7 linked regions of the Homo sapiens genome follow. The protein of the gene in region 2 interacts with the protein of the main gene of each other region in a pairwise test. Each region holds a gene or a part of one and is shown on either strand. Other genes may lie near its edges.

Region 1 (3,500 bases), on a different chromosome or scaffold from region 2:
ATGAACATAAATCTTTGACCATTTCTGATTATTTCCTTAGAATAAATCCCTAGGAAGGTAATTATTAAGTTAAAGGGTAGATACCATTTTTCAGGCTTTTGATACCTGTTGCCAAATTATTCCCCAGAAAAGTTGAACAAATCTGTCTCATCAGCAGTAATACAATATTAATAATATTTATTTATGTATTTATTTTTTGAGACGGAGTTTCACTCTTACTGCCCAGGAGTGCAGTGGTGCGATCTCAGCTCACTGCAACCTCCGCCACCCAGGTTCAAGCAGTTCTCCTGCCTCAGCCTCCCGAGTAGCTGGGATTACAGGCACGTGCCACCACGCCCAGCTAATATTTTGTATTTTTAGTAGAGACAGGGTTTCACCATGTTGGCCAGGCTGGTTTCAAACTCCTGACCTCAGGTGATCCCCCACACCTTGGCCTCCCAAAGTGCTGGGATTATAGGTGTGAGCTACCGTGCCCGGCTATAATATTTAATGTATAGTGAATGCCTAAGATGTGCTAGTTTCCATGCTAAGCATTTAGTATACATTGTGTTTAATCCCCTCAAAACTGCTATGAGGAATAACTCTTACTATCCCTATTTTACAGAGAAGAGAACTACAGTAAGATGCAGAGTAACTTGCCCAGCTCTGGGTATTATTGTTCCTTTAAATTTTTGCTGACAAGATCTCTCACCTGGCTTTAAAAACTTAGATATTCTAAAATTTTGACTCTATTCTCTTCAATATTTGTAAATAACTTTGGTTTATTTGGTTATTCTGTACTAGCTGAGAGGAGGAAGACTTGAACTTTGGTTGCCTAGGGTTTTCCTGAGAACTGTATCTTCTGGTTGTGGTTAGTTAATCCCATGTATTTTGCACATGCCAATATCTCCATAATCTAAATTCTTCAGATTTTCTTAAGACTACTATCCACCTTTTAGATTCACTTTTGGTGTTTCCTGACATTCCATTTCAATTGGATACACTTATGCCTGACCTTAAAGGAAAGGGAAAAGAGAAGCTAGTTTTTTCACTCATTGGATAGACATAGCCAGTCTTCTGGCCTCACCAAAACAGCTGAGAGAATGATTGGCCCAAAGCCATTTGGAGAACACTCCATTAACTAGAGGGAGAGAACAAGGAGTATTACTCTCTAAATTGCTGAATTAGGTTTTTCCACTTAATAGATTATGTTAGGAGCAAACAGGTTTTAGGCACAAATATTCTTCTCGATCACTGCCATAACTTAGAAGAAGCCATAAGAATAAGGTTAAGATTTTTAGAGGACTTGTTGAACCAAGCTGTATAATCAGAGTGCAATTCACGGACTTTTTAAGACTTTGTCAAACAAAGTCTGTATGTTATAGTACTACTATAGGGAAAGATTGGTTTTAATAAGTGAAATTAGAATTATACACATTAAAACAAGGCAGTATCACCTAGTTTACTTGCACCACCTTATTTTATTTATGTATTTGCTTTCTAAGTTTCTCTACTTTTATTTCATTTTTGTAAGATCTTTTCAAAAGCCCCACATTTTTTAAACAGTTAAATAACCTTTTCAAGTTATTAGATACATGCCTTATAACAAACACCTTCTATGCTGAAGGTAGCTTTTAATTTTAAAAAGTTTGAGCCGGGTGCGGTGGCTCACGTCTGTAATCCCAGCACTTTGGGAGGCCGAGGCGGGTGGATCACGAGGTCAGGAGATCGAGACCATCCTGGCTAACACGGTGAAACCCTGTCTCTACTAAAAATACAAAAAATTAGCTGGGCATGGTGGCAGACGCCTGTAGTCCCAGCTACTCGGGAGGCTGAGACAGGAGAATGGTGTGAACCCAGGAGGCGGAGCTTGCAGTGAGCTGAGATCCTGCCACTGCACTCCAGCCTGGGCAACAGAGCGAGACTCCATCTCAAAAAAAAAAAAAAAAAAAAGTTTGGCTTTGAGAAATAGCTGAGCTGTTGATTGATTATTAAGTGATATAATAACAAAAATGGTACTAGCGACTGTATTGGGTGGTAAGCTGATAAGTGATTTTTATTTATTTTTATTTTTTGTTTGATAAGTGATTTATAAAAAATTATTATTCAAGCCTTATGTGATGTTAGAATATGTATATTTTAAAAATAATCACCTTGGCTGGGTGCGGTGGCTCACACCTGTAATTCCAGCACTTTGGGAGGCCAAGGCAGGCGGATCACCTGAGGTCAGGAGTTTGAGACCAGCCTGGCCAATGTGGCAAAACCCCATCTCTACTAAAAATACAAAAATTAGCCAGGCGTGGTGGCACACACCTGTAGTCCCAGCTACTTGGGTGGCTGAGGCAGGAGAATCACTTGAACCTGGGAGGCAGAGGTTGCAGTGAGCAGAGATCACACCATTGCACTCCAGCCTGGGTGACAGAGTGAGATTCCGTCTCAAAAAAAATAAATACAATTTAAAAAATAAAATAATCAACTCTATTAAAGCTATATATTTATCAGATGCCCTTTGATGTTTTAATTAGCAGTGATAATTTAATTTTTAAATAGTATCTCACCTGCTTTCAAGAAAGGATTTGAAGTATGTTTGATAGTCACTAGTACAAACCGTTTGTTAAGGTAGGTATCAGAAGCCTTATAGAACCATGGACTACAGTAATTGTGGCAACTATTTGGCATAAAACAATTTCTAAAGTTTAGTGTTACTTTTTATTTTATTTATGTATTTATTTATTTATTTTTTTGAGATGGAGTCTAGCTCTGTCTCCCAGGCTGGAGTGCAGTGGCGCGATCTCGGTTCACTGCAAGCTCTGTCTCTCGGGTTCACGCCATTCTCCTGCCTCAGCCTCCCGAGTAGCTGGGACTATAAGCGCCCACCACCACGCCCAGCTAATGGCTAATTTTTTTTTTTTTTTTGTATTTTTAGTAGAGACGGGGTTTCACCATGTTAGCCAGGATGGTCTCGATCTCCTGACCTCAGGTGATCTGCCCACCTCGGCCTCCTAAAGTGCTGGGATTACAGGCGTGAGCCACCGCCCCAGCCTAGTGTTACATTTTTTTAACTGTATCCCTTGGCTTCCTGACAGCCAGAGGGATAAAGGCATATGCAATCGATTATGTGGTTTTTATTTTCATAAAGTTATTTAGAAACTTCCAGGCAAAAAATCCTAAGAATTTTATGGGTGAGACCTCTAAATAGTGATATCGAGTAACATCATGGACAATATAACAATTTTGTGGGTATTTTTTATATTGACTGATAGTTGAGGCATTTGTAAAGGGAGATAAGCCACTGTGGTCTAAGAATGTTGTTTTCTGGTCTTACTTGATAATGATAAAGTTTTTTGTTTTTTTTTTTTTTGAGACAGAGTCTCGCTCTCTCGCTCTGTCTCCCAGGCTGGAGTGCAATGACTTGATCTCGGTTCACTGCAAGCTCTGCCTCCCAGGTTCACGCCATTCCCCTGCCTCAGCCTCCCGAGTAGCTGGGACTACAGGCGCCCGCCACCACACCTGGCTAATTT
Region 2 (3,500 bases):
GCTTATCCTGGGAGAGACAGGCGAGGTGGGATGTCTGAAGGGATGGGGACAAGTCTGCCTGTCTTCCCACACCCCGCCCCCACTCCTGAGGGCCCACACGGCTGGAGGGGCGAGGGACCTGACATGGGTGACTCTGGAACTGTTCCAGGCCTGACAACATCTGCACACACCTGGGGCAGCCAGGCTACAGTTAACAGGACACACCACACATCCTGCCTACACCCGCAAGTCACAGCCAGAGAGGGACACACCCAGCTGTACACACCAGCCTGCCAACACACGTTATGTTACAGGCCTGGAAAGGTATAGCAAGACACAGGCACCTTACCCCCTACACACAAACCAGCTGGTCACAGGCCTGGTGCACACACCCTTGCCAGATAGACCCACCCAGAAAATGCACATGAACCATCCAACACCCCGGCCAACAGCCACACACCCAGTAAACGAGCCAGGACATACATCCTCCCCACCCAACCCATGTAAACGAGTGTGAGACACACAGGCCTGTGCAACAGGCACAGGGTCACATGGTCCCTTCCTTCCCAACACACACATATCATGCAGATCCAGACACATCCAGGAAAGGACACACACCTGTCAACACCAGGCACCCAGAGACATGACGGCACAAATCCCCTACTGCCGCTCACTCAGGGAGCCCACAGGGAGAAACAGAGGCAGACAGGAGGGATGGCAAGTGTGCCACAGCACACACATGCAACAGGGCCCTTGCACACATGCCACAACACAGGCATACACACACGCACACAGAAACCATGCACACACATGCACCACAGTGCATACATATGTGCACACATGCCAGAGCGTATGCACACCACACCTAGTGGTGGCGGATGGGGACTGGAGAGAAGGCAGGTGCCGGTACCCTGTCCTCTGAAGGGCAATGGTTCTAACAAATGCAAGACCAGGAGAAGGGTCTTGGGGAGCCCCTGATGCCTGTCCCTGTCCACTCCGGGGAGAAGGAGCCAGGCCTCAGAGCCAGGGCTGATACCACCTCCCCAGTGCCCAGGGTGGCCAGCTCTGGTTTGGCAACTGCCCTGGCAGACCCCAGGTCGAGCTAGGGATAACTAGGAACCCTAAAGAGGGGTGGGAGTAGCCAAGGGCTTGGTTTGGGAACAGGAGGGAAGTTGGCATCATTTCCCCAAGGGCAGCACCACCACATCCTTCAGCAGGCAGGGCCACACTCCTGCCCAGCTGGACCCTGCCAAGGTGGCAGCTTCTCTGCACAGCTGGGAGAACAGTAGCTCCAACTTGGGACCTAGGCTTCCCAGCCCGGCCTGCACACAATCTGGAGCCTAAGCCCCTCACTCTCTGCCTGCACCAGCAGGGACCCCTGCAGGGATGCCCCCTGTTCTAACAGCAGCCCACTCCTCTGTCCACTCCAAGTCAGCCGTCTCCAGGGCCCTGCCCCACTGCCACTTGCACCCAGGACACACTAGCTGGGCAGGAGCTGAGGGAGTCAGAGCCCCCAAGTCTGCCCTCAGGGCCTCCCGTCCACACCATCCTATGCTCTGATGGCCCAGCACACTCAATGCATCAGCCATGATGGTCTGCCCGGGTATGGAGTCTCTGGGAACACGGTGCAGGTTTCTCTCCTAGCAGGGTAGTATAAAGGGCACGGTTTAGCTGGGCACCGTGGCTCACACCTGTAATCCCAGCACTTTGGGAAGCTAAGGTGGAGGACTGCTTGAGGCCAGGGGTTCGAGACCAGCCTAGGCAACGCAGCAAGACCCCATCTCTACAAAAAATTTAAAAATTAGCTGGGTATGGTGGCATGCACTTGTAGTCCACTTGGGAGGCTGAGGTGGGAGGATCACTTGAGTCCATGCGTTTGAGGTTGCAATGAGCCGAGATCACACCACGTACTCCAGCCTGGCCAAGAAAGACAAACGCTGTCGCTTAAAAGAAAGAAAGAAAAGGGCAAGGCTGTCTCGTGGATGGGCATGGGGAGGTCAGAGTCTGCTGTGAGCCCGAGTCTGTGGACCCAGAGCTGCAGCCACCCAGATACAACTCATCTCAGAGCTCCAAAGGCCGATGAGCCCTGTCAACCCCCTAGGCCTGGTGACAATGGCACTGCAGGTCACAGCCCCTGCTGGAAAGGCTGTGGGTTCCACGGCTGGCTCCAGTTACAAAGGCCCTAGGACCTGGCCTAGTAGAGCGTGGGCATCCAGATGTCAGAGTGAGGGCCACCCAGCATTCCTGGAGACAGATGGGTCTGTCCCAGGCTGCCAGATACCATGGGCAGTGGTTGGCAGGTGGCTGAGGTCCATGTGTGGCACCGGTGGGAAGTAAGAGCTACATCCAAGGTGAGTCAGCAGATCCAAACCCTCAGCCTCCTGGGAACTCTCCCCACCCTTCCCAGTGGAGCTCCAAAGTCCATGTAAGCAGGCAGCATTCTAGGCCTGGCTGAGTTCCCAACCCTTCTGACGTCAGGTCTGGCTGAGGCTCTAGCTGGTCCTGTTGGTCTAGAAGACTCCTGATGCACCCACATTCCAGGGCTGGATGGGTTCTAGGTTGTCTCATCGGTCCAAGTTTAGAAGGTTTTCCATCTGCCTTATTTCAGGACAGGCTGATTCTAGATCTTTCCATGGTTCAGTATAGGCTCCTGGATCAAGCGGCAGCTGTACCGCCTCTCCCAGGACAGAGGCCTTTCATGCCCTCAGCGTCTGAGGCTGCCAAGGACGTGAGCAGGTTGAGGAAAGGTGAGGATAATCACCATGGAGGAGCCCTCAGCCATTCTCAGCCCTGCAGGTATGAGTTCCCAGCTCTGTCAGGGGCTCCACGTTCCCTGTGGAAAATGGCCCAGGCCACCCTCTGAGAGAGGATGCAGGGTTTGAGGGGCCGGCTTCCGAAGTCCTCCATGGAATGAGGTGGCCAGTTCACGCTGCAGCAGGTGGGACCCTCAGGGGCAGAAAAGATGCCTCCAACCACCTGCCCTGTGTGCACAAGGGGGAGCATCAGGATGGCCTTCGTCTTCTCGTTTATTTCCTTTTTTTTTTTAAGCTCTGGCTCCAATTTCCTGGCTGTTTCAGGCACCAGGTTTTAAGAGTTCTGAAGCTCCTGGCCATCTTCATTTGATGCTTCCCATAGTCAGGATGGATGTCAGAGTGTGGCTGTGATGGCGGCAGCTAACGGGGGTCAAGCAGGCAGGACACCAGCAAGGGGGCCGGCCCAGGGAATCCACTCCCAGCCCCGGCTGTGCTTGGCTGTCTCGGGTGAGGACCAGTGACTGCTCCTAGGCAGACCAGAGGAGTCACCCAGCACGAGACTCTCCAGCACCCAGGCCACCCCAACCGCCGAGACCCAGAGGCTCAGGCAGAGTTCTCAGGGGAGCCGAGGGTAGAGGTCCCAGCTTTTACAATGCTGCCTAGGGCAGGTCATCTTCACCATCCAGAAACCCCCTGAGGACCACAGCACTCTTAGTCCTCCATCTCCAGGTGTCTCCTAGATCAGTGACACTAGGTGAGATTGATTTT
Region 3 (3,500 bases), on a different chromosome or scaffold from region 2:
GACCTCGCTATCTGTGGCAGGGACGCAGGGACCCCCCCCCCCCGGGACCTCGCTATCTGTGGCAGGGACGCAGGGACCCCCCCGGGACCTCGCTATCTGTGGCAGGGACGCAGGGACCCCCCCGGGACCTCGCTGTCTGTGGCAGGGACACAGGGAGACACAAAGGCATGAAAGGACGCAGAGAGACGCAGGGACTCTGGGAGGCTGCAAGGCTGTGGCTGTGGCCATGGCCCAGTCTGGGGGCGGGGTGGCACCTGCAGGGTCCTTGTTGAGAGAGCTGGAGCCCCCTCCTATGCAGCCGGCTCTAGTGGGCTCTGCCTTCAAGCTCACAGCCCCATTTGGGGCACCGCCCCCCTACCGTGGGCGCCAGTTTGAGGATGGCTGTGGGCCCACTCTCTACCCTCCTGGCCCTTACGGTGGCCTGGACTGCACCTCCCCCCATCCCTGGGAACACAGTTCGAGGGCTCAGCACCAGCCGCCATGCCCCAGGACGCCGTCCCCACCTTTACCTTGGCCTTGCCCAGGAAATCCACGGGCTCCAAGTGCTTCAGGTGCCACCGGTGGGGCCGGAAGACCTCGCCCCTGGGGACCTGCCGTGGCGGCAGTGAGCCCCGTCTCTGGAGGGGGTGGGTATCCAGCAGATGCAGACGGGGTGACCAACCAGGCCTGCAGCCGCAGAGCCCCTGTGCCTTGGAGCAGAAGGGGCCGCTTGGGCCCCCCACCCCCTTCCCGCAGGTCACAGGAAGCCCCCGCCTGGCACCCGAAACTGGGCACTAGGGCCATCTCCCTCCGGAAGCTTCTTCATCTCATGAAATTGGTCTTGAGGAGCTTTGGTAGGCACCAGCCCAAAACCATGACCGGGCTGGCACTCCTCACCTGCACTTGGTCCAGGGCTGAGTCCAGGCCATTCAGGGACCCCTCCGGCCACTTGGACATGGCCTCCCTTAGGCTGCTGGCCGCCTCTGTCCAGAGCCCCAGCTGGCACTGTGCCGACGCCACATTGTGTAGCACCTGGGAGTGGGGCCAAGGTGATGGCAGGGGCCTGATGCCCCACCCAGGCCCTCTCCCGGTTCCCCCACCCAGCTCCTCCCTCGGTCTGCCCACCCAGCCCCTCCCCCAGTCCCCCCACCTGGCCCCTCCCCCATCCCCCCACCCAGCCTCTCCCCCAGTCCCCCCACCTGGCTTCTCCCCCGTCTCCCCACCCAGCTCCTCTCCCAATCCCCCCACCCGGCCCCTCCCCTGCACCGTTCTGTGTCCTGGGCTGGCGGGCCCCCACCTGGCTTTAACCCTGACTCCAGACCCACACCAGTGGGCTTTCCCTTCCATCTTTTTGTCCTAAAAGACAATGCTATTCCCAGAAGGCTTCAGGGCGATGCATTTCCGGGGTCTGGTGGGGGGGCCTCTCAGCACCCCTCCTTCGGTGCCAACACGTTCCAGGCAGCCAGGAAAGGGCTGGGGGCACAGTGGAGGGTGGGCACAACCCCCTGCCTGCTCCCTGCCCACCCAGCAGCCTTTCGCCTCTGCCCTCCTTCTGGGTGGAGCCACCCCTGGTGGCCTGAAATGGCACAAAATGGTCCCTCCACCTCCACTGCCACCAGAACCTCCTGCGGGTCAAGGAGTGGCCAGGGTATTCCATGGCACCAAGAGCTTCGGCCAGAGGCGCTCCCCAGTCCACAGGGCCCTCCTGTGACAGTGCCACCGCCCGTGGACACCCCACAGCCAGCAGCACAGTGAGCCCTGCCCGGCCTCACCTCCCAGGCTTGCAGCTTGAACCGCAGGCCCAGCTGCGTGTAGTCGATGGCAGCGTGGCCCCTCAGCTGCTCCAGGGCCAGCCAGAAGTCAGACAGAGCCTCCTGGAACCTGTGGGCAGCCGGGGTCCCCTCAGCAGCACAGGGCGGAGATGGGGCTGTGGTTAGGCAGCTTTCACACCAGCCCCGCTCGAGCCGCCCCCAACACCTGGTTCCAAGGAGACCTGAGGGAGGGCAGTGCGGTGCCTAGGTCTGCACACTCAGGTCTGGTGGGCCAGGGGTCCATGCACATGTGTGCTGAGTGGGTGTGGGGGTCACTGTGTGCTGGGGCTCCACCATTTTCCCAGCTCAGACTCAGCTTCCTGGGCCCCTGCCCGCCCCCAAGCCTCTCTTCTGAACCGTGCAGAGAGCCCTGGTTATTTCCCTCCTGCTTCTCAGGCCCCCCACCCCATGGGGGCTCCCCCTCCAAACTCTGAGCCTCCTTCCAAGCCTTGCTGGGAGCTCCCCAGCGCCTGCCGGAGAGGCCTCTCCTCCAGGCGGGCTTCCCGCGCCGATGTGAAGGAGAGGCTGCCCCAGAGGGGTCTGGATCGTAATCCAGAAAGGGACAGTCCCACAGCCATAATCCCGAATGCTGGGACTCTTCAGTAAAGGAAGAGATGGCTTTTTCGTTCATCTGCCTTTCTGAAAGGTAAAATATCTCCAGATCCGGGCTCTCTGGGCGACTGCGTATGTGGTGGTCCCTGAAGCCTTTGATGGATCTTGTTAGAAGGTGGGTTGTTCATCTTGGTGTTTTGATGACCAGTTATAAAGCCAGGTGCACACAGTCACCAGCCAGAGTCTACGCACCTACGTCTTACCCCTTCTGACCTAGCTCCTCATGAGCACTGTTCATCTGCTCGTAGTTCTCACACCCGTGAGCCTGTCGCTAGCGTGCATGAATTTGTGCTTGAAAAAATATGTATGTTATTTTTGTCTATTTTATCGGCCAATGAAGGGTTCCGTCGTGTTTTTATGTTTCTCAAATAAATCCCTTTAAAATATGTAAATAGGCTGGGCGAGGTGGCTCATTCCTGTAATCCCAGCACTTTGGGAGGCCGAGGCGGGTGGATCACCTGAGGTCAGGAGTTCGAGACCAGCCTGGCCAACATGGTGATGCCCAGTCTCTACTAAAAATACAAAAATTAGCCAGGCGTGGTGGCACATGCCTGTAATCCCAGCTACCCGGGAGGCTAAGGCAGGAGAATCGCTTGAACCCAGGAGGCGGAGGTTGCAGTGAGCCGAGATCGCACAATTGCACTCCAGCCTGGATGACAGAGCAAGGCTCCTTCTCAAAACAATTTTTAAAAAGTAAATAAATATCTTTTACAGAATTTTATTTTTTCTAGAATTATATTTTTTGGGATTTTAGATTTGAGGGGTTTTGATATTTCAGGATTGCGAGGCTCTCGGGACTGTGATCCACTTCCCCACAGAGCCTGCCCTCCTGGGATGGGGCCTGTGAGTGTCTAGCAGAGAGGCCGAGGCATGGCCTGGTCTGCAGTCCCGATGGTCTCCTTTCCCTCATTCCTCCTTTAGGAAGGGACATGGTGCAGAGAGCCCAGGTAAGCAGTGAGGACCCCACGACCTGTGTCCAAGGGTGGCGCTCAGCAGAGGCGAGGGCCACAGTCTCAGGTTTCCCTGGAGCCAGGAACCATGGAGGAGGGGGTGGGCAAGAGGAGGGAGTGGATGGAGAGGGAGGAGGAGGAGGTGCAG
Region 4 (3,500 bases), on a different chromosome or scaffold from region 2:
GGTGGATAAGAAAACAATGAATTACTCCATCAAAAGCAAAAGCACAAGCACATAGTAAAGTTGATCACCCACTGTTAATGTCAATTCAGTTTAAAGCACTTTATTAACCACACATACATATTTTCCAGTGTCTAATTCTCATCGTGTTCTTTTCCATTCCAGACTTCCCTGTCTCTTTCCCAGAGCTCTGTTCCTCTTCTCACTGTTTCTACAAAAGGGACAATAAACAATTTTCTAGCCACTCATCATCATAAACCCTGACATGCTAAATTATCCCCTGCTCAGTTTATGGACCACAGTGGGCCCATAAAACTCCTCCCTCACTAGCAACCCACCCCACACAAAATTCTCACTTCCCTTTTTCCTTGCGCTTCCTAAAAAAAGCAATTGAGCCACACCCACTACCTCCTGTGCTAGGGGTTTGTCCCCTAATCCTGGGACACTAGGGAGCTCCTTACCTGGAAGGCAGTTGCACTCAAAAGTGAAGTCACCAGTCTGCCGACAGGTGCCTCCATTGACACAAGGCGAGGGTGCACAGGGCACATACAGGCTGTCACAGTACTGGCCTGTGAAGCCCTGAAGGCACTGGCACTGGTAGGAACCAGGCAGGTTGAGGCAGGTGCCACCATGCTGGCAGTGTCCTGGAATGTCACACTCATTGACATCAGTCTCACACTTCTGCCCTGTGAAGCCTGTGAGGCATTTGCAGGAGAACTGGTTGGCCACAGTGGTACAGGTACTTCCATTTGCACAGGGATGAGACAGGCAGGCATCGGTCCATTGGCACTCCTTACCTAAAGGAAGGATAACAAAACTCAGTACTGGCCACAGAAATAGGAGATGGCCCCATCCTCAATACCTCATTGACATCAGCGAGCTCTTGCGTGGAGAAGACCTCAACTCTTTGCATTTTACAAAAGGCTAAATCAGAGCCTCCTCAAGGTCATCTGACACAGAGCCCTCTCCAGTAACTCTCCAAGGACCTCAGCAGAGACACAAGGACTCAGTGGGTGGAGCACCTGGAGGCAATTGTAGGTTAGTCACATTGAAGCCCAATCCTGCAGGACGCTATCAGCAATAGGAGTCTGGATCCATCTACTCTCTCAGAGCTCACTGTCTTTGCATATGCTGCTCCTGTTTGAATATCAACTTCCGGGCCAGGAGCAGTGGCTCACACCTGTAATTCCAGCACTTTGGAAGGCCGAGGCAGGCAGATCATGAGGTAAGGAGTTCAAGACCAGCCCGGCCAATATGGTGAAACCCTGTCTCTACTAAAAATACAAAAATTAGCTGGGCATGGTGGCGCGCACCTGTAATCCCAGCTACTTGGAAGGCTGAGGCAGAAGAATCACTTGAACCCAGGAGGCGGAGGTTGCAGTGAGCCGAGATTGTACCACTGCACTCCAGCCTGGGCGACACAGCAAGACTCCATTTCAAAAAAAAAAAAAAATCAACTTCCCTTCTGTTTTCCTAGTGAACTCTCCCTATCTTGGCAACTCTACTCAAAAGTTCCAACCTCTGTAAAGTCATCCTTAGTGCCCCTCACATACATACATGTGCGCAAAGACAGATACACCAAGTTTGCTATTTTCTTCTATTATACCACCTGCCACACTGGCAGGGTTGGGTCTCCGTGGTATGCTCTCAAATCATGTCTGTTGAATGGATAAAATATATCGATATTTTCCACAAAATATAGTTACTAAATAGACCTCTGGTGATAGAAACAAGTCAATACTACTTCTGTTTCCTCTAAATGTAACACACACATATATTCTGGGAAACATTTTATTAATTGTGGCCTTGCTATAAATATCTGTTGATGTGTTTGAAAATGATGAAGGACCTCTGGGTCCCTATATAACAAATGAAATAGAAGCCATCAGGAGGACAGAGGTCTCGAAGGTATTCCGTGGACTTTCTCAAGTAGGAAAGTACCAGCACTAGCAGGAAGACTCTGACGGGTTGAAAACTAAATCATGATGCCAGGGGAAGCAAAGCAGATTCTTTGAGGCAGAAAGAGAAAGAGAAAAAAATATCCTCACAGAACTAGTAAATTTGGTATTCACATGGCTGGCTTTTTGTTGTCATTAGTCTAAGTCGCTTATTATTTAAACTACAGAGATAAGAACTCCTTGAATTTTTATTATTATTATTATTATACTTTAAGTTCTAGGGTACACGTGCACAACATGCAGGTTTGTTACATATGTATATATGTGCCATGTTGGTGTGCTGCACCCATTAACTCGTCATTTACATTAGGTACATCTCCTAATGCTATCCCTCCCCCGTCCCACCACCCCACGACAGGCCCCGGTTTGTGATGTTCCCCTTCCTGTGTCCAAGTGTTCTCATTGTTCAATTCCCACCTATGAGTGAGAACATGCGGTGTTTAGTTTTTTGTCCTTGCAATAGTTTGCTGAGAATGATGGTTTCCAGCTTCATCCATGTCCCTACAAAGGACATGAACTCATCCTTTTTTATGGCTGAATAGTATTCCATGGTGTATATGTGCCACATTTTCTTAATCCAGTCTATCATTGATGGACATTTGGGTTGGTTCCAAGTCTTTGCTATTGTGAATAGTGCCGCAATAAACATACGTGTGCATGTGTCTTTATAGCAGCACGATTTATAATTCTTTGGGTATATACCCAGTAATGGGATGGCGAGAACTCCTTGAATTTGTTAATACTCCAGTTGATTGTCTAGGAAAGTATCTAAATCTCTGACCTCATAGAAAGGTAAATGGGAGACACAAGAGTTTTTCTATAAGGGAAAAAGATGCGAGATGTGACATATGAGCACAGAAAAGTGCTCTCTGCCTATCAAGGAATGTCAAATCAAAGGAGAAAACTATAACACAAATTTAGGCACAGCATATACATCTCAGGGAGCTAAGACAGAAAATGAAGGAACTGCAATTCTTCTTGTCTTTCCACTCATGTCACTAAGAGGCACTTATTTACAGTGGAGAAGAGATATAAATGCTCACTTCTAGCAAGTGTGATTTTCAGAGTGATGCCCACAACTGAAACAGAAAGATCCCCGGGCCGGAAGTGGTGGCTGATGCCTGTAATCCCAGCACTTTGGGAGGCTGAGGTGGGCAGATCACTTGTGGTTAGGAGTTTGAGACCAGCCTGGCCAACACGGTGAAACGCCATCTTTTCTAAAAATACAAAAATTAGCCGGGCTTCATAGCGCATGCCTGTAATCCCAGCTACCTGGGAGGCTGAGGCACAAGAATCACTCGAACCCAAGAGGTGGAGGTTGCAGTGAGCCGAGACTGCGCCACTGTACTAAGCAACAGAGTGAGAAGAAAGAAAGACAGAAAGAGAGAGGGAAAGAGAGAGGAAGAGAGAAAGAGAGAGAAAGAAAGAAAGAAAGAAAGAAAGAAAGAAAGAAAGAAAGAAAGAAAGAAAGAGAAAGAAAGAAAGAAAGGAAGGGAGAAAGAAAGAAAGAATCAACCCTGAATTTGGTTTCCATATATATTATGT
Region 5 (3,500 bases), on a different chromosome or scaffold from region 2:
GGTGCTCCCCTGCCGTTCCAGGGAGGAGTTCAAGACCAACCTGGGGAATATAGCAAGATCCCATCTCTTAAAAAAAATAAAATAAAATAAAAATAAAGAATAAAAAAGGGGCAGGCCTCTCCTGTCCTGAAATAAACACATGAACAAACCCTCCAATGCTGCCCTTCAAGCTCCCCCTCACTGGCAAACTTTGTAAGTTATCTGCTTTTAGGGCCTCCACTTCTTTTTCTTCCCAGTTACTTCTCAATCCAGCACAGTCTCATACTTATTTTTCTTATTTATTTTTTTGAGACAGGGTCTCGCTCTGTCACCCAGGCTGGACTACAGTGGTGCCATCGTAGCTCACTGCACCTCGACCTCCTGGGTTTGAGCCATCCTCCCACCTTAGCCTCCTCAGAAGCTGGGACTACAGGCATGTGCCACCACGCCCGGCTGAAAGTGAAGATCCTCATACTTTTATTTACAGCACTTTCTACACTGTAACAGAGTTTAGGTTTCTGTGTCTCCCCCACTATACCTGAGCTCTACAATGCAAGGACTGTATCTCAGTCATGCTGAATGCCCCAGATTCCAGCCCGTAAGTGCGAGGCTGAATTAAATGAAGCCCAGGGGCTTCACATGCAGCAGTTCTCCCCCAGCCAGGCAGCTCGGTGCTTCTCAAAGCCTCTGCTCCTGTTTGTTCCCAACGCTGCTCTCCTAGCGTGGACGCTCCTCCTCTCTCCCATCTGCAGAAGGTAACTGGGCTCCTGGCTGATCGCCACCTCAGCCTTGTTCCTCCAACCTATCCTCTACTTGGTTGTCTTCTTTTTTTGCTGGATACTCGTCTAAAATCTAAATACAGGCTGGGTGCGGTGGCTCATGCCGGTAATCCCAGCACTTGGGAGGCTGAGGCGGGTGGATTACCTGAGGTCAGGAGTTTGAGACCAGCCTGGCCAACATGATGAAGCCCCATCTCTACTAAAAATATAAAAAATTAGCCAGGCGTGGTGGCAGGTGCCTGTAATCCCAGCTATTTGGGAGGCTGAGGCAAGAGAATCACTTAAACCCAGGAGGCGAAGGTTGCAGTGAGCTGAGATCGCGCCATTGCACTCCAGCCTGGGCAACAAAAGCAAAACTTCATCTCAATAAATAAATAAATAAATAATCTAAATACAATCAATTCAATCCCCAGTTTAGCAATCCTTGCTGAAGAAAATCAGGCCCCCACACGCCATCATCATAAGCCCGCCATGATCTGGACCGCACCTCCTTCCACTCGGGCCCAGCACCCAACCTGCTGCTGCTGGAACACACCTGCCCACAGGCTTTGGTGCCCACACTCATATAGCTCCCTCATTTTTTTTTGAGATGGGTTTCCCTCTTGTTGCCCAGGCTGGAGTGCAATGACGCGATCTCGGTTCACTGCAACCTCTGCCTCTCAGGTTCAAGTGATTCTCCTGCCTCAGCCTCCCGAGTAGCTGGGATTACAGGGATGCGCCACCACGCTGGCTAATTTTGTATTTTTAGTAGAGACAGGGCTTCTCCATTTGGTCAGGCTGGTCTTGAACTTCTGACCTCAAGTGATCCGCCTGCCTCAGCCTCCCAGAGTGTTGGGATTACAGGCGTAAGCCACCACCCCCGGCCCAGTTCCCTCATTTTTATTAGAACTTTTGCAGTGTCTGGCATAAGAGGGGCACAAAGACACATGCTGAAGGAATAATGAGGGATTCTTGTTTGTTTCCAAGTATCCATGTGGTATAAAGAGCTCTGACTTTGTCACCTGGCAGCTTGGGGCTGAATCCAGGCTCGGCTCTGTCACTTACCGACAAGCCCTGAGGCCCATTCTCTAACTTCCCTAAAGTCTCTATTTTCTCATAAATAAAACAGAACTAACAACTACCTAACAGAGTTGTCGGAAGGACTGAGTTAACAGATATAAATAAAATATATAAGAACGGTGTACAGAAACCAATCACTGGAAACAAAAGTCATTCAATGTATTGATTTTTAAAGTACTGAATTGAACCCAAACAGTACCAACTCATACACGACCAACATTTCACACATGAAATTGATTTGGGATCAAGGATTGACCGTCGTCAAGGTGGTGGTTATGAAACTCATCGGAGCCTCTATCTGGCCCCACTTCTTTCAGGAGTTCTGGCCTTTGGAGATGTAATCTGTTTATCATAACTGATTCTGGCCCTAGGAATGACGGCGTTATAAAGTAAAGCATTACTTTAGGGATTCGACTTTTTTCATTTCCGTGAGTGATTCTGCTATAATGTATGGCATATTAGAGATGAGCAGAGGCGGGAGGGCTCAACAGCCTGTACCGGGATAACTCACCATGCAGGCGGCCTGCACCGCCTCAGACACGTTACCAGCATTAGGCTCGCACCAGAAAACGTGGCACTCAAAGCGCTGGTTCCCCGTGTCCATGATGAAGGCAAATGTGTGGACGTCCTTCCCAACACCCATGAAGGACAGGAATCGCACACGACATTCCACTAAGACTTCCTCTTCATTCTGCAAGAGACATTATGCGGCATCCAATCAGGAGATCCCAGGATCAAGCTTAAGAGTGGCAGCACATAGGAACTGGCATTCAGAAAGTATAGCCAGGCCGAATTCAGAAAGGACCTGTGTTTTTCTCGAAAGGCGGAACCTTGCCCAAATGTCTGAAGAGGCCATCACTGCATGGCTACCCTGTTCTGGAGGTCATTCTTGCTCTGAACTACACTGCTGTCATGGGGTGTGATGTGGGTCCCATTCTCCATTATGCTACGTGGCTGTGAGTTCACTGTGGGGAGGGACAGTGCCGTCCATACTTCTTACATCTAGCCCAAATACAGGACACCTGGTGGCCCAAAACCCATTTGGCCAAGTAAACCCCCAGAGCACCAGAAAAAAGGGATTCACGGTATCTTTCTTCGTCCAGTGATTCTTACCCAAACTAAACAGCACACTGAATCACATTTCCATCTAAAACCATATAAAACAAAAAGCTGCCAAATCAACAAAAAGTTGTCAAATTGTTTTTTTCTTTTCTCTCTTGCAAACTGGTGTCCATCTGGGATCCACATGAGGCAGCGTAAAGAAATGTTCAGAATTCTTTCTCATAGGGATGAACACCACATCCTTTGCAAGAACCATATGCAAGTTTTGAATTAATAAACACATCCAAAATGTTGACTTTTGGATCATTAACATCTTGACTAATTAAATATTCACTCTAGTGCCTTGGGAGTGTTTAATGAGCAAAGTACACTAGTGTGAGAGGTCGGGAAGTTTTCTCAGGAGGAAGGAGGCTGTGGTGGTGATCTGGGTAAGGGTCGGGTAGGCAGAGGGTGGAGCATGGAGGGTGCAGTGCTTGCGATGATGCTGGTGTGGGGAAGGGCGGGACCTACTTGAAGAGGTGAGGAGAGCTCAGTGTGGCCAGCTGGAGGCAGGCAGTGAGCACCCTGCTCCTCTCTCCAGGGTGAACCGGGCAGCTGTGGGGCAGGCTGATGACTGGTGGT
Region 6 (3,500 bases), on a different chromosome or scaffold from region 2:
TTAGTATTATGCTGGTTTTACATATTAAATACATGAATTTATATTAATTAAAAAAATTCCTCAAGAAACTATCTGGATAGTATAATAATTAGGTGCTACTTGGATTCATACTCAAAGTCTTCTTTACTTATCTAAGTCTTGCCTGTGGGCCCTGACTTGTTTTCCATGTATATTCTGTAAAATGACTCAAACTCACATTAATCAAATGCTATTAGAAAACCTTAACTTTTGTTCATGTTTCGGTTTACAAACATAGAAATGCTAAGTGCTGCTTAACTCCGCCTAGCTAGAGGAACAAGAGCAGTTTAAAAACACATTAAAAAGAATACAGAACAAATCTGACTTAATAATTTGATTTTTTTTTCTTTTTCTTTTTTGAGACTGAGTCTCACTCTGTCACCTAGGCTGCAGTGCAGTGGCACAATCTCGGCTCACTGTAACCTCTGCCTCCCAGGTTCAAGCAATTCTCATGCCTCAGCCTCCTGAGTAGCTGGGATTACAGGCACGCGCCACCACACCTGGCTAATTTTTGTATTTTTGGTAGAAAGGGGGGCTTCACCATGTTGGTCAGGCTGCTCTTGAACTCCTGGACTCAGGTGATCCACCCGCCTTGGCCTCCCAAAGCGCTGGGATTACAGGTGTGTGCCACCGTGCCCAGCCTAAATACAGGATACTTGAAACATACACAAAGATAACTATCACCTCCTCAATCCACAAGAGCTTACCTGGACTACCTGTGTCTGACATTTTGCATAAGCTGAGTTCGTAAATGCCAGTGACTCGATTCCTATTTGAAGAAAATAAAACAATTGTTTAATCTCTTAAAGCACAAAAACAGGAAAATTTCAATTTCTGCTACTTAAAATAGTGTCTTCTCTGCAGGGACTCAAATATAATTCCAGGCATTTCTTATTTGTCACCGCTCTTTTCTTATTTTGAACCTAAGTAGCATACCTTTTCCTAGAGGAGTCCGCTTTCATCTCAATTTAATTTTTTTATAGATAGGGTTTCCCTGTGTCACCCAGGCTGGAGTGCAGTGATGTAATCACAACTTACTGCAGCCTCGAACTCCTGGACTAATGTGATCCTTCTGCCTCAGCCTCCTGAGTAGTTGGGACTTCAGGCATACACCACTATACCCAGCTAATTTTTAAGTTTTTTTGTAGAGATAGGGTCTCCTTATGTTGCCCAGGCTGGTCTTGAACTCCTGGCCTCAAGTGATCCTTCCACCTTGGCATCAAAAAGTGCTGAGATTATAGGCATAAGCCACCATGCCCCACCTCATCTCTATCTTTTAAACACTTTATTTCAATAGGGTGAATAAAATTGAATGATAAACTAGAAAATTTAAAATATAAATGTGAAAACTAAAAATTTGTCTTTTCTTACTATAAGAGAGACGATATGAGGGAAACAATGACTAGAATGAAATGATAATCAACAACTTCTGGGGATTGTGAGTAGTAGGAGGTATAATACCTTCTATTGTATTAGTAACACTTATTTTTAAGCTGGGCGGTGATACACAGGTATTCATTGTATTGTTTCTTTCTTTTTTTTTTTTTTCCTTTTTCTTTTCTTTTTTTTAAATTTTGAGACAGGGTCTCACTGTTTCACCCAGGCTGGAGTGCAGTGGCTCTATCATGGCTCACTGCAACCTCAACCTCCCAAGCTCAAGTGATCCTCCCACCTCAGCCTCCTGAGTAGCTGGGACTACAGGTGTGTGTCACCACACCTGGGTAATTTTAAAATTTTCTGTGGAGATGGGGTCTGTGTTGCCCAGGCTGGTCTCAAACTCCTAGGCTTAAGCAATTCTCTGTCCTCAGCCTCCCAACGTGCTGGGATTACAGACATGAGCCACTGTGTATGGCCTTCACTGTATTATTCCTGACATATTTTGTATGCCTTAAATATGCATAACAAATCTTAAAAAGAAGAAAATTTCAATGGTACTCTGTTAGAAATAATGATGATGACATTTAAAAGTCTTTGCAAATTTAGTCTTTGCAAAATTGTTTTAGACGTGTTCACAATGTAATATTCCTTCCTTCCCTCATAACTCGTCCATCCATCAACATTTTATTAAATGTCAGCATGCAAGTCAGTACATTCCAGGTGTCAGTTACCAAAATGGTTCATAAACTGTAAACTAACCGTGAGACAGTAAGCCGAGAATACTTAAGGACTAATGATTCTGTTGTACTGAACAAACACACTGGAAGCTAACTTGTGTGAAAAACTTACGAATCTGGTGACTTTGAGTAGCCGCTGCCAAAGAGGCTACGCAGAGAGCGTGGTGGTGAGATCTTGGCATCTCGGGAGTAGAAGACCATGCACACATCCTTGGTGATGACAGCCGGCTGGATGCAATGATCCAGCTGAAAGCAGACAGGGTAGGTGCTGATGAAGTGCAGGCAGAGTACTGTGACTAGAGTCTATACACGAACGTATTTGGAAAGCGAGTCCCAGTTGTGAGAACTGAAGGATTTTAGCTCCACCAATTATTTCAACAGCCACCCAATGGATAATATGTGCAAGAGTAGGTAGTACTCCTTAGAGATGCATTTATTTTTATCTGAGGTAAATGTTGTTTCTCCTGATAGGTGAGGAAACTGAGGCAAAGAGAGTTTCTCCAAGGACATAGAGGAAGTAAGTGGCAGCACAGGGATTTGAACCGACAGGCTGGGTCTTGGGTCTGGGCTATTAACCACTATTACACTCTGTCCACAACTACAAAAACAAGAGGTGACATTTTCTTAAAAATCACACATTCTTCAAACAATGGTGATTAGGCTACTAAAGCTGAAGCTGCAATGAGTCATGTGATTTTTTGAGTAAACAGAACCCAGGAATAGAGTCTAATATAATCAGAAGAGTTAGCAATGTATAATAAAATGAAAAACTTAAGGATGTGGAGGAAGAAAGAGGACAAAACAAGTGGAATCTTCGCTGACCACTTCCTGCTGTAACCTGCACACTGTTCAGGGCTGACTGTTGGCATCAACTGAAGTTCCAAGTCTCCTCACCTCTAGGTAGGCCGACAAGGTCATGTAGATCTTTTCTCCATAGGGTGTCACTCGGTTCAGAAGAAGGGAGTTATGCAGAGAGCTATCCCACACAGCCTCAAAGCGGTAGAAGGTCCTAAGGTCAGAAAGACAAGAGGGAATCATCCAAAAGAAGCTAAAGTCACGTTAGTCCAGGTACTGCCACTGTCAATCATCCTAAAGAACCATACGCCAACCAACAGACACTTTCAGTTTATCAAACTCTAATAACAGAGAGGAACCCTTATCTCCTAGGAGGAAAAGATAGGTCCCCATCCTCTTGCTCCCAACCCCACCCATCATTAAGGAACACTTAGTTGTGCTTTTTTTTTTTTTTTTTTGAGACAGAATTTTGCTCTGTTGCCCATACTGGAGTGCAGTGGCACAATCTCGGATCACTGCAACCTCTGCCTCCCGGGTTCAAGTGATTCTCCTGCCTCAGCCTTCCGAGTAGCT
Region 7 (3,500 bases), on a different chromosome or scaffold from region 2:
AATATTTTCAGTGACTTACATCATCAATACCATCATCATCATGATGGAGATCATGGATCATCCTAACTACCCTCTACCCCACCAACACCTTTTGATGAATGATATGGTTTGGTAGTGTCCCCACCCAAATCTCAACTTGAATTGTATCTCCCAGAATTCCCATGTGTTGTGGGAGGGACCCAGTGGGGTAACTGTATCATGGGGGCCAGTCTTTCCTGTGCTATTCTCATGATAGTGAATAAGTCTCATGAGATCTGATGGGTTTCTCAGGGGTTCTGCTTTTGCTTCTTCCTAATTTTCTCTTGCCACCACCATGAAAGAAGTGCCTTTTGCCTCCCACCATAATTCTGAGGCCTCCCCAGCCATATGGAACTGTAAGTCCAATTAAACCTCTTTTCTTCCCGGTCTCGGGGATATCTTTATCAGCAGCGTGAAAATGGACTAATACAGTAAATTGGTACCAAGAGTGGGGTTTTTGCGAGAGTGCCAGCTATCCCGAGGGAAACTTTGGAGGGAACCAGCTACTAGATGGTTCAATTAGTCTTTCGCCCCTACACCCAGGTTGGATGACCGATTTGCACATCAGGACTGCTACGGACCTCCACCAGAGTTTCCTCTGGCTTTGCCCTGCCCAGGCAGAGTTCACCACCTTTCAGGTCCTAACATTTGTGCTCATGCCCCACCTTCCCAGTGCAGAAAACAAGATGGGCCGGTGGAAAGCTGACCTGGCTACTGCCACCGCAGAGTGCCCAATTTGCCAGCAGCAGAAACCAACACTGCGCCTTTGATATGGCACTATTCCTCAGGGTGATCAGCCAGCTACTTGGTGGCAGGTTGATTATGTTGGACTTCTTCCATTGTGAAAAGGGCAGATGTTTGTCTTTACTGGAATAAACACTTACTCTGGATATGGGTTTGCCTATCCTGCATGCAATGGTTCTGCCAAGACTACCATCCGCGGACTCATGGAATGCCTTATCCACTGTCATGGTATTCCACACAGCATTGCCTCTGACCAAGGCATTCACTTTATGGCTAAAGAAGTGCAGCAGTGGGCTCATGCTCATGGAATTCACTGGTCTTACCATGTTCCCCAACATCCTGAAGCAGAACGGTGGAATGGCCTTTTGCAGTCACAATTACAATGCCAACTAGGTGAGAATACTTTGCAGGGTTGGGGCAAAGTTCTCAAGAAGGCTGTGTATGCTCTGAATCAGCGTCCAATATGTGGTACTGTTTCTCCCATAGCCAGGATTCACAGGTCCAGGAATCAAGGGGTGGAAATGGAAGTGGTACCACTCACCATCACCCCTAGTGATCCACTAGCAAAATGTTTGCTTCCTGTTCCCGCAACATTAAGTTCTGCTGGCCTAGAGGTCTTAGTTCCAGAGGGAGGAACGCTGCCACCAGAAGACACAACAACAATTCCATTAAACTGGTAGTTAAGATTGCCACCAGGACACTTTGGGTTCCTACCTTTAAGTAAACAGGCTAAGAAAGGCGTTACAGTGTTGGCTGGGACATCAAGGCTATCAAGACCCAGGCTATCAAGATGAAATCAGTCTACTACTCCAGAACGGAGGTAAGAAAGAGTATTCATGGAATACAGGAGATCCATTAGGGCGTCTCTTAGTATTACCATGCCCTGTGATTAAGGTCAATGGGCAACTACAACAGCCCAATCCAGGCGGGACTACAAATGGTCCCGCCTGGATGAATGAAGGTTTGGGCCTCTCCATCAGGAAAAAAAAAAACACAACCTGCTGAGGTGTTTGCTGAAGGCAAAAGGAATACAAAATGGGTAGAAGAAGGTAGTCATCAATACCAGCTACTACCATGTGACCAGCTGCAGAAATGAGGACTGTAATTGTCCTCAGTATTTCCTCCTTCTTTTATTAAAAACATGTCTGTGCTTGCACACACTTGTACTAAGAAAATATCTTCATTTTATTTCCTTTCTCCTTTATCATGTGACATAAGATTTATTGACTTCACATCAGCATTTAAGTATCGTTAACTTTATGTAAGAGTGTTTCAGTTGGGGACTGGTGTGTTTCCGGATGTACGAAGAATAGTTGTACTACATCAGGTGTAATTATGACCTAATTATTGTCTTTATTTGAAGATTATGTGTGATCTCAGGAGATGTGTATGGGTTCAAGTTGACAAGGGGTAGATTTGTGGTGGTTAAAACTGAGTGTGTCAACTTGATTGAATTGAAGGATACAAAGTATTGATCTTGGGTGTGTCTGTGAAGGTGTTGCCAAAGGAGATTAACATTTGAGTCAGTGGGCTGGGGAAGGCAGACCCACCCTTAATCTGGATGGACACCATTTGATCATCTGTCAGCAAATATAAAGCAGGCAGAAAAACATGAAAAAGCGAGACTGGCCTAGCCTCCCAGCCTACATCTTTTTCCCGTGCTGGATGTTTCCTGCCCTCAAATATCGAACCCCAAGTTCTTCGGTTTTGGAACTCAAGACTGGCTCTCCTTGCTCCTCAGCCTGCAGACAGCCTATTGTGGGACCTCGTGATCATGTGAATTAATACTTAACAAACTCTCCTTTATATATATATAAAGATTGCCAATATATATATATTAAGATTGCCACCAAGACACTTTGGGTTGGAATATATATACATACATATATATTCCATTAGTTCCATCCCTCTAGAGAACCCTAATACAATGAAAAATTAATATAACAGTATTCTACACTAACTGATCCAGTATAGTCTTCTGAGTACATTTTTCACTTTTTTGCTTATTGCATTTATAGAACTCTTGGTTTAGTGCTTAAAGCAGGAGAAAAAATGAAGAATGTTCCTCCTTTTCTCATCTAATTTAATAAACACTTTTGAATAAAGCTCAGACCCACCTAGAAAAACCCACAATCTATTCAGGTGAGATATGTGTAAAAAAAATTACAATAAAATGTGATACATAAAACTAATAAAACTTAGAGACCATTTGCCTAAAGGAATCATGAAAGGGTCACTAAGACACAGTTTTAAATAACATTGGACAATCACCAGTTGTAGAAAAGGGCATTCCAGGCAAAAGGGTGTGTAACTGTATGGAAGCAATAATAAGTACAACATTTTCAGGAAATAAGGAGAATTTGGTGTGACTAGGCCTAGATGCTTGTGGGGAGGCCAGGCTATAAAAAGATGTAAAGTCTAGGCTGTAGAGAGCTATGGAAGTCATGTAAAAGAGTTTGCAGTTTATTCTGCGGATGATGAAAAAATATTAGACATTGTAAGCAGGTGAGATTGTTAGAATATTTGCATTTATAATCAAAGATGTAGTAATATCATGGGTGAATGAGATGGGGAGAGAATAAAGGCAAGAAAACGTATTCAGAAACTACTTCAGAAGCCCAGGTGAGAGATAACATGGCCTTCAGCTACAGGGTAGCAGAGGAAATGGGAGGAATAGACAGGTGAAAGGCAACTCAGAGGTTGGCTTGGGTGACTGAGTTGAAATGAGGTCAGAACAA

The links.
Region 1: the proteins of KCTD15 (region 2) and PRPS1 interact in binary tests that used the Homo sapiens proteins (3 or more experiments, as listed by UniProt).
Region 3: the proteins of KCTD15 (region 2) and NOXA1 interact in binary tests that used the Homo sapiens proteins (3 or more experiments, as listed by UniProt).
Region 4: the proteins of KCTD15 (region 2) and NOTCH2NLA interact in binary tests that used the Homo sapiens proteins (3 or more experiments, as listed by UniProt).
Region 5: the proteins of KCTD15 (region 2) and APBB2 interact in binary tests that used the Homo sapiens proteins (3 or more experiments, as listed by UniProt).
Region 6: the proteins of KCTD15 (region 2) and KIF1B interact in binary tests that used the Homo sapiens proteins (3 or more experiments, as listed by UniProt).
Region 7: the proteins of KCTD15 (region 2) and NOTCH2NLC interact in binary tests that used the Homo sapiens proteins (3 or more experiments, as listed by UniProt).

The regions. Positions count from the first base shown.
Region 1 is NC_000023.11:107,631,510-107,635,009, forward strand, and holds part of PRPS1 (ribose-phosphate pyrophosphokinase 1), read left to right. Parts: intron 1-3,500. UniProt on the Homo sapiens protein: Catalyzes the synthesis of phosphoribosylpyrophosphate (PRPP) that is essential for nucleotide synthesis.
Region 2 is NC_000019.10:33,803,370-33,806,869, reverse strand, and holds part of KCTD15 (BTB/POZ domain-containing protein KCTD15), read right to left. Parts: intron 12-3,500; exon of another isoform or gene 8-11; coding exon 1-7. UniProt on the Homo sapiens protein: During embryonic development, it is involved in neural crest formation. Inhibits AP2 transcriptional activity by interaction with its activation domain.
Region 3 is NC_000009.12:137,426,393-137,429,892, reverse strand, and holds part of NOXA1 (NADPH oxidase activator 1), read right to left. Parts: exon of another isoform or gene 1,861-3,500; coding exon 1,752-1,860; intron 1,453-1,751; exon of another isoform or gene 1,277-1,452; intron 1,012-1,276; coding exon 877-1,011; intron 618-876; coding exon 510-617; intron 1-509.
Region 4 is NC_000001.11:146,156,022-146,159,521, forward strand, and holds part of NOTCH2NLA (notch homolog 2 N-terminal-like protein A), read right to left. Parts: intron 795-3,500; coding exon 459-794; coding exon of another isoform or gene 271-458; exon of another isoform or gene 209-270; coding exon 132-208; 3' UTR 1-131.
Region 5 is NC_000004.12:40,819,543-40,823,042, forward strand, and holds part of APBB2 (amyloid beta precursor protein binding family B member 2), read right to left. Parts: intron 2,509-3,500; coding exon 2,329-2,508; intron 1-2,328. UniProt on the Homo sapiens protein: Plays a role in the maintenance of lens transparency, and may also play a role in muscle cell strength. Involved in hippocampal neurite branching and neuromuscular junction formation, as a result plays a role in spatial memory functioning.
Region 6 is NC_000001.11:10,360,570-10,364,069, reverse strand, and holds part of KIF1B (kinesin-like protein KIF1B), read right to left. Parts: intron 3,142-3,500; coding exon 3,027-3,141; intron 2,379-3,026; coding exon 2,245-2,378; intron 788-2,244; coding exon 726-787; intron 1-725. UniProt on the Homo sapiens protein: Has a plus-end-directed microtubule motor activity and functions as a motor for transport of vesicles and organelles along microtubules.
Region 7 is NC_000001.11:149,456,621-149,460,120, reverse strand, and holds part of NOTCH2NLC (notch homolog 2 N-terminal-like protein C), read right to left. Parts: intron 1-3,500. UniProt on the Homo sapiens protein: Human-specific protein that promotes neural progenitor proliferation and evolutionary expansion of the brain neocortex by regulating the Notch signaling pathway.